2 linked regions of the Homo sapiens genome follow. The gene in region 2 interacts genetically with the main gene of each other region. Each region holds a gene or a part of one and is shown on either strand. Other genes may lie near its edges.

What was found.
Region 1: changes in SNIP1 (region 2) and RTF1 together harm fitness less than expected from each alone (positive genetic interaction), as found in Homo sapiens cells (one large-scale study listed by BioGRID).

What each region holds. Positions count from the first base shown.
Region 1 is NC_000015.10:41,423,595-41,427,094, forward strand, and holds part of RTF1 (RNA polymerase-associated protein RTF1 homolog), read left to right. Parts: intron 1-3,500. UniProt on the Homo sapiens protein: Component of the PAF1 complex (PAF1C) which has multiple functions during transcription by RNA polymerase II and is implicated in regulation of development and maintenance of embryonic stem cell pluripotency.
Region 2 is NC_000001.11:37,540,794-37,544,293, forward strand, and holds part of SNIP1 (smad nuclear-interacting protein 1), read right to left. Parts: intron 1-3,500. UniProt on the Homo sapiens protein: Required for pre-mRNA splicing as component of the spliceosome. As a component of the minor spliceosome, involved in the splicing of U12-type introns in pre-mRNAs. Down-regulates NF-kappa-B signaling by competing with RELA for CREBBP/EP300 binding.

The sequences.
Region 1 (3,500 bases), on a different chromosome or scaffold from region 2:
CCGACCTCAGATGATCCACCCACCTCGGCCTCCCAAAGTGCTGGGATTACAGGGGTGAGCCACCACGCCCAGCCCTGGGAGCTTTAACAGTGAGGCTTTTAGGAAAAATACAAAACTGATCTTCAGACACAGGTCATATTGGTGTATTTATTTTTATTTATTTATTTATTTATTTTGAGATGGAGTCTCACTTTGTTGCCCAGGCTGGAGTGCAGTGGGACGATCTCAGCTCACTGCCACCTCCGCTTCCCGGGTTCAAGCAATTATCCTGCCTCAGCCTCCCAAGTAGCTGGGATTACAGGTATGCACCACCATGCCCGACTAATTTTTGTATTTTTAGTAGAGATGGGGTTTCACCATGTTGGCCAGGCTGGTCTCAAACTCCTGACCTCAAGTGATCCGCCCTCCTTGGCTTCCCCAGGGTGCTGGGATTTCAGGCATGAGCCACCGCATCCGGCCTGATTGTTCATCGTTCAACAGATGTATTAGACAGCGTTAGACACTAGAGCTATTGGGTGAACAAAATGGAAGCAGTTTCCACCTTCAAGGAGTGTAAAGTGGAATGAGAGAGAGATGAGGTGGGGAGATTGCTCAGAGAGAGTAATTTCCTTACAATTGCACTACAGGCCATGAAGCAAGGACAAGAATACTGTGGAAATATTAACCAGGGACCCTATTCTAGCCTGATGAGAGTGACATTGAAACAGACCTGGAATATGTGTTAAGGAGAAGCAGATTAGAAGACTGAAGAGTAAAGGGAAGAGTGTTGAATGTTCATGGTTGAGGCACCAGCATATATAAAAGAAATGAGACAGGAAGGACCTCGAACCCTTATGAAACTGAAAGAAGCACAGAGTGAGTAACATAAACTAGTTGCATAGTTGGAGAGAGAATAGTACAAATGAAACTGTAGAGGTAGATTCTGTTTTGACCCTTTGAGGATGGAGAAGTCAGTTTACGGACTACACTCAGCAGTAAAAATAAAATTGAATTGATAGAAAACATCAAATGTGTCATACATAGTAAATATAAGTGATGAAATTTGTGTGTCTCATATGTACATGTAGATGTATACTGGGTTGTGAGGTATAATTTATCTTCCTGTGGGCTGCGTTAAAAAGAGAAAAGTTTTTTGGCCAGGCGCAGTGGCTCACGCCTTTAATCCCAGCACTTTGGGAGGCCGAGGTGGGTGGATCATATGAGGCCAGGAGTTCGACCAGGCGGGCCAACATGGCGAAACCCCATCTCTAGTAAAAATACAAAAATTAGCCAAGTGCGGTGGCACACACCTGTAGTCCCAGCCACTGGTGAGGCTGAGGCATGAGAATCCCTTGAACCTAGGAGGCGGAGGTTGCAGTGAGCCGAGATCACCACTGTATTAGCCTGGGTGACAGAGAGACTCCGTCTAAAAAAAACAAAAGAAAAAAAGAAAAAAATTTAAAGCCACTGGAGGGCGTCAGCCTCCCCGGTGGCTGGGACTGCAAGTGTGTGCCACCACACTTGGCTAATTTTTGTTTTTTATTTTTGAGACGGAGTCTCGCTCTTTTGCCCAGGCCGGACTGCAGTGGCGCTGTCTCTGCCACTGCAAGCTTCGCCTCCCGGGTTCATACCATTCTCCTGCCTCAGCCTCCCGAGTAGCTGGGACTATAGGCGCCTGCCACTGTGTCCGGCTAATTTTTTTTTTGTATTTTTAGTAGGCACGGGTTTCACCATGTTAGCCAGGATGGTCTTGATCTCCTGACCTCATGATCTGCCCGCCTCGGCCTCCCAAAGTGTGCTGGGATTACAGGTGTGAGCCACCGCGCCTGGCCAATTTTTGTATTTTTAGTAGAGACTTTGGAGTTTATTCTGAGAGTAATAGGAAGCCATTGAAGGATTTTAAGTTGGAGAAGATTTTCAGATTTGCCTTACCCAGACTATTGTGGAGAGTAATATGGAGGGGGACACTAATGAAGTGGCAGAGAGAGGAGTCCAGATGAGAGATGATGGAGAACATAAGTTCCATTAGAATGGAAGCGCCAGGAGGGTAACCGTATGTGTTCACTATGCTGTCCCTGGCATCTAGAGCAGTGCCTATATGCAGTTGGCACCCAGTCAGTATTTATTAAATGAAGGACTGACTTGGATTGATATGGTTGTTATAGAGATGACAGATAGTGGAATTGGTTGGACATGATGTTCAGTATGTAGAACTAAAAGGCCTTGAAGACTGAGGACTGATTAGATGTTAGGATGAGAAGAGGAGTATTTAGGATTGATGCCAGGCACTGGCATGAGATGGGGAGTGCTGGAGGAGCAGGTTTAGAGGTGAAGATCCTGCATTCAGTCTGGGATATGTGGAGTTCGAAGTGACTATGAGATGTCTAAGTGGAGACATCAAGTAGGTAGTTGAAAATAACACTTGAGGGCCAGGCACAATGGCTCATGCCTGTAATCCCAGCACTTTGGGAGGCTGAGGTGGGAGGATTGCTTGAGCTCAGGAGTTTGAGATCAGCCTAGGCAACATGATGATGAAACCTGATCTCTACAAAAAAAAAAAATTTTTTTTGGAGGTGGAGTCTCGCTCTGTTGCCTAGGCTGGAGTGCAGTGACACCATCTTGGCTCACTGCAACCTCCGCCCTGGGTTCAAGCGATTCTCGTGCCTCAGCCTCCTGAGTAGCTGGGATTACAGGCACATGCCACCATGCCCAGCTAATTTTTTTGATTGTTTGTTTTTATTTTTTTTTTTGGGATAGAGTCTCGCTCTGTCGCCCAGGGTGGAGTGCAGTGGCACGATCTCTGCTCACTGCAACCTCCCCCTCCTGGATTCAAGCGATTCTTCTGCCTCAGCCTCCCGAGTAGCTGGGACTACAGGCGTGCGCCACCATGCCTGACTAATTTTTTGTATTTTTAGTAGAGACAGGGTTTCACCATATTGGCCAGGCTGATCTCGAACTCCAGACGTCATGATCTGCCCACCTCGGCTTCCCGAACTGCTAGGATTACAAGCGTGAGCCACTGTGCCTGGCCATTTTTTTGTATTTTTAGTAGAGATGGGGTTTTTCCATGTTGGCCAGGCTGGTCTCGAACTCCTGACCTCAGGTGATCCACCCCGCCCCCCCCCCCCCCCGCCCCCCCCCCCCGCCGGCCTCCTGAAGTGTTGGGATTACAGGCGTGAGTCTACTGTGCCCAGCCGCTACATATATATGTGTGTGTGTGTGTGTGTGTGTGTGTGTGTGTGTGTGTGTGTGTAATTTTTGTTTGTTTGTTTGTTTGTTTGTTTTTTAGGCAGAGTCTCACTCTGTTGCCCAGGCTGGAGCGCAATGGTGTGATCTCGGCTCACTGCAACCTCCACCTCCCAGGTTCAAGCAATTCTCCTGCCTCAGCCTGCCAAGCAGCTGGGATTACAGGGGCCCACCACCACGCCCAGCTAATTTTTGTATTTTTAGTAGAGATAGGGTTTCACCATGTTGGCCAGGCTGGTCTTGAACTCCTGACCTCGTGATCCACCCACCTTGGC
Region 2 (3,500 bases):
ACAATCTAAAGGCAGCCCAAATCTTGTTCTTTTTGAACGAAGTGCATGCAAAAAGTCTTGTAATTTGGACTTTGGCATTTAGAACAACATTTCCCACAGAAATAAGATTATGTCTGGTGGTTATGTTCCCTCGCAAGGCCACAAAGATGATATCCCATGCTGCTATTCAACTATAGCCCTAATAGCACAAGTCCAGGTCCACAGCCCTAAAAACAAGAGACTATTTAGTCCAGAAAGGAGAAGGAAAAATAATTCCCTCCTTTTCAGAACAAAGGTAACTATGGGCAAACTTACAGGGAAGAATATACAGAAAATAGAACTAAGAGTTAAGTAGTCAGGTACAAGATATGTAAAGAAAGAAACTAGCTTTCTCTCATGCCAAAAGTGAAAATATAATAGTAAGTTTTTAAATCCTACTTCCATAGTTAAAAAAAAAATTCAATACCTAGAAATAAACTTAAGAAACATGAAAGACATATAAGAAGAAATCTGTAAAAATTCATTAAAATAAATGTTTTTTAAAGATGTGAAGAAATGGAGAAACATACCATGATTTCTTGAAAAAGATAGCAATGAAAATCAGCCTAGGCCAGGCATGGTGGCTCAAGCCTGTAATCCCAGCACTTTGGGAGACCGAGGCGGGTGGATCACCTGAGGTCAGGAGTTCCAGACCAGCCTGACCAACATGATGAAACCCTGTCTCTACTAAAAATACAAAATTAGCCAGGTGTGGTGGCACATGCCTGTAATCCTAGCTACTCAGGAGGCTAAGGCAGGAGAATCGCTTGAACCTGGGAGGCAGAGGTTGCAGTGAGCCGAGATCACGCCATTACACTCCAGCCTGGGCAACAAGAGTGAAACTCCTTCTCAAAAAAAAAAAAAAAAAAAATTCAGCCTGGTAGAAAATGTTTGCAACACAAACCATACAGTAGTCCCAGGGGGATACATTTTAAGTATGGTGGATGGCTGAAACCACGGATAGTACCGAACCTGACTGCCATCAAATGCAACACATTTCTGTTCATGTCTTCCACCCATAAATGTAATGCCTTTTCCATCTTAACTAAGCACTTGTGAACTGTGGCTATAACTTTTACAGTATGAGGTACAACAGCAAAACTAGCATGAATTTCTTTTTCCTTCTCCACAATTTCACAATAGAAGATTCATTCTTACTATCGATCTTAGCAACTTCAATATATGATTTGAAAAGTTTTTTTTTGTTTTAATTTCTTTAAGTTGAGAACTTTCAACTTTTCGTTTAAAGGAAGCACTTTACAGCTTCTCTTTAGCATTCCTAATTGCCAAAATCACTACTATTGCATTTTGGGGCCACTACTAAATAAAATAAAGGTTACTTGAATCCAAGCACTGCAAACTGCAACAGTTTTCTGAAAATCAGGATGGCTACTAAGTGATGGACAGGCAGGTAGCGCATACAGCACAGATACACCAGACAAAGGAAGGATTCACGTTCCTGGTGGGACAGCAGAAGTTTATACCAAGTGACTCAGGATAGTGACCAATTTAAATTTTATGAGTTGTTTTTTTCTGGAGTTTTCCATTTAATATTTTCAGATGCAGAAAGTGAAACCACAGATAAGGGGAGACTACTGCATATTAATATATCAATAAGAAATAATTCAACAGAGAAACTGATAAATGGTCAGGTGCCAGTGGCTCACACTTGTAATCCCAGCACTTTGGGAGGCCAAGGCGATGGATCGCTTGAGCCCAGGAATTTGAGACCAGCCTGGGCAACATGGCGAAACTCTGTCTCTACTAAAAATACAAAAATTAGCTGGGCACAGTGGTGCATGCCTGTAGTCCCAGCTACTCGGAAAGCTGAGGTGGGAGGATCGCTTGAGCCTGGGAGGCAGAGATTGCAGTAAGCCAAGATTCCACCACTGCACTACAGCCTGGATGACAGAGCAAGACTCTGTCTCAAAAATAAAAAAAGAACAGAAAAATGAACAATTTTCAGAAGAAATAAATGTCCAAGGGCCGGGCACAGTGGGTCACGCCTGTAATCCCAGCACTTTGGGAAGCCAAGGCAGGAGAACTGCTTAAGCTCAGGGCAACATGGCAAAACCCCATTTCTACAAAAAATACAAAAATTAGCCAGGCACGACAGCATGCACCTGTAATCTCAGCTATTTCGGAATTTGAGGTGGGATGATCACTTGAGCCCAGGAGGTCGAGGCTGAAGTGAGCTATGATCATACCACTGCAGTCCAGCCTTGGCAACAGAGACCCTGTCTTGAAAAAAAAAAAAAAAGAATTACATGTCCAATAAATACATGAAGATATGCTTACCCTAATAACCAAAGCATCAAATTCTAAAAGAAATATGAATTTTCTCTCCTTAATTAGTAAAATTAAAAAGATCAATAATATCTAGAGTCAAAAAAGAAGGTACAGGAAAAATGGGTATTTTCAGCCACTGCTGGTACAGGTATAAACTAGCATAGCCTATTTAGGTCAATTTGACATTATTTAATCAAAATCTCATCAACCACTAATGCCACTTATAGAAATCAATCCTACAGAAATACTAGCAGAAACGCACAAAGACATACATATGAATGTGTTTACTGTAATTTCGTAATTTAAAAAAAAAACTGGAAACAACCTAATGTCCTGCAATGGTAGAATGGTTAAATTATTATCTATTCATACAAAGGAATACTTCACAGCCATGAAAAAGAATGAGATAATGACATAGAAAGATATCTAATATATTGTTAAATGGGAGGGGAAAAAAGAGAAGGGGCAAGTTTCACAATAAGACCACATATTTCTATATATAGACTTGGCAGATGAGCTACTTGGAGAGATGTTCCCACTATAATTTAACTAGATACTTATTAAATTTTTAATGCACTGTTGGGCTTTCAATAAGCAAGGCAAAATCTCCAATGAGAAAAAAAATCTCCAAAGGGGGGTAAAAAAAAAAAAAAGATTTGAGCCCTAAGCATAAGCTCAAATACTAAAGAATACTAGACACACACAAGGAAATGGAAACAAGCCACTGAGCATGAGAGGCAGCAGAAACAAGTCTTATAGGCTGGGCATGGTGGCTCACGCCTGTAATCCCAGCACTTTGGGAGGGCAAGGGGGGGGGCAGGTCACTTGAGGTCGGTCAGGAGTTCAAGACCAGCCTGGTCAACATGGTGAAACCGTCTCTACTAAAAATGCAAAAATTAGCCAGGTGTGGTAGCGCATGCCTGTAATCCAGCTACTCGGGAGGCTGAGGCAGGAGAATCACTTGAACCCAGAAGTGGAGGTTGCAGTGAACAGAGATGGAGCCACTGCATTGTAGCCTGAACGACAAAGAGAGACTCCGTCTCAAAAAAAAAAAAGAAACAAGAGGCCGGGCGAAGTGGCTCACGCCTGCAATCCTAGCACTTTGGGAGGCTGAGGTGGGTGGATCACAAGGTCAGGAGTTCAAGACCAGCCTGGCCAAGATGGTGAAACCCTGTCTGTACTAAAAATACAAA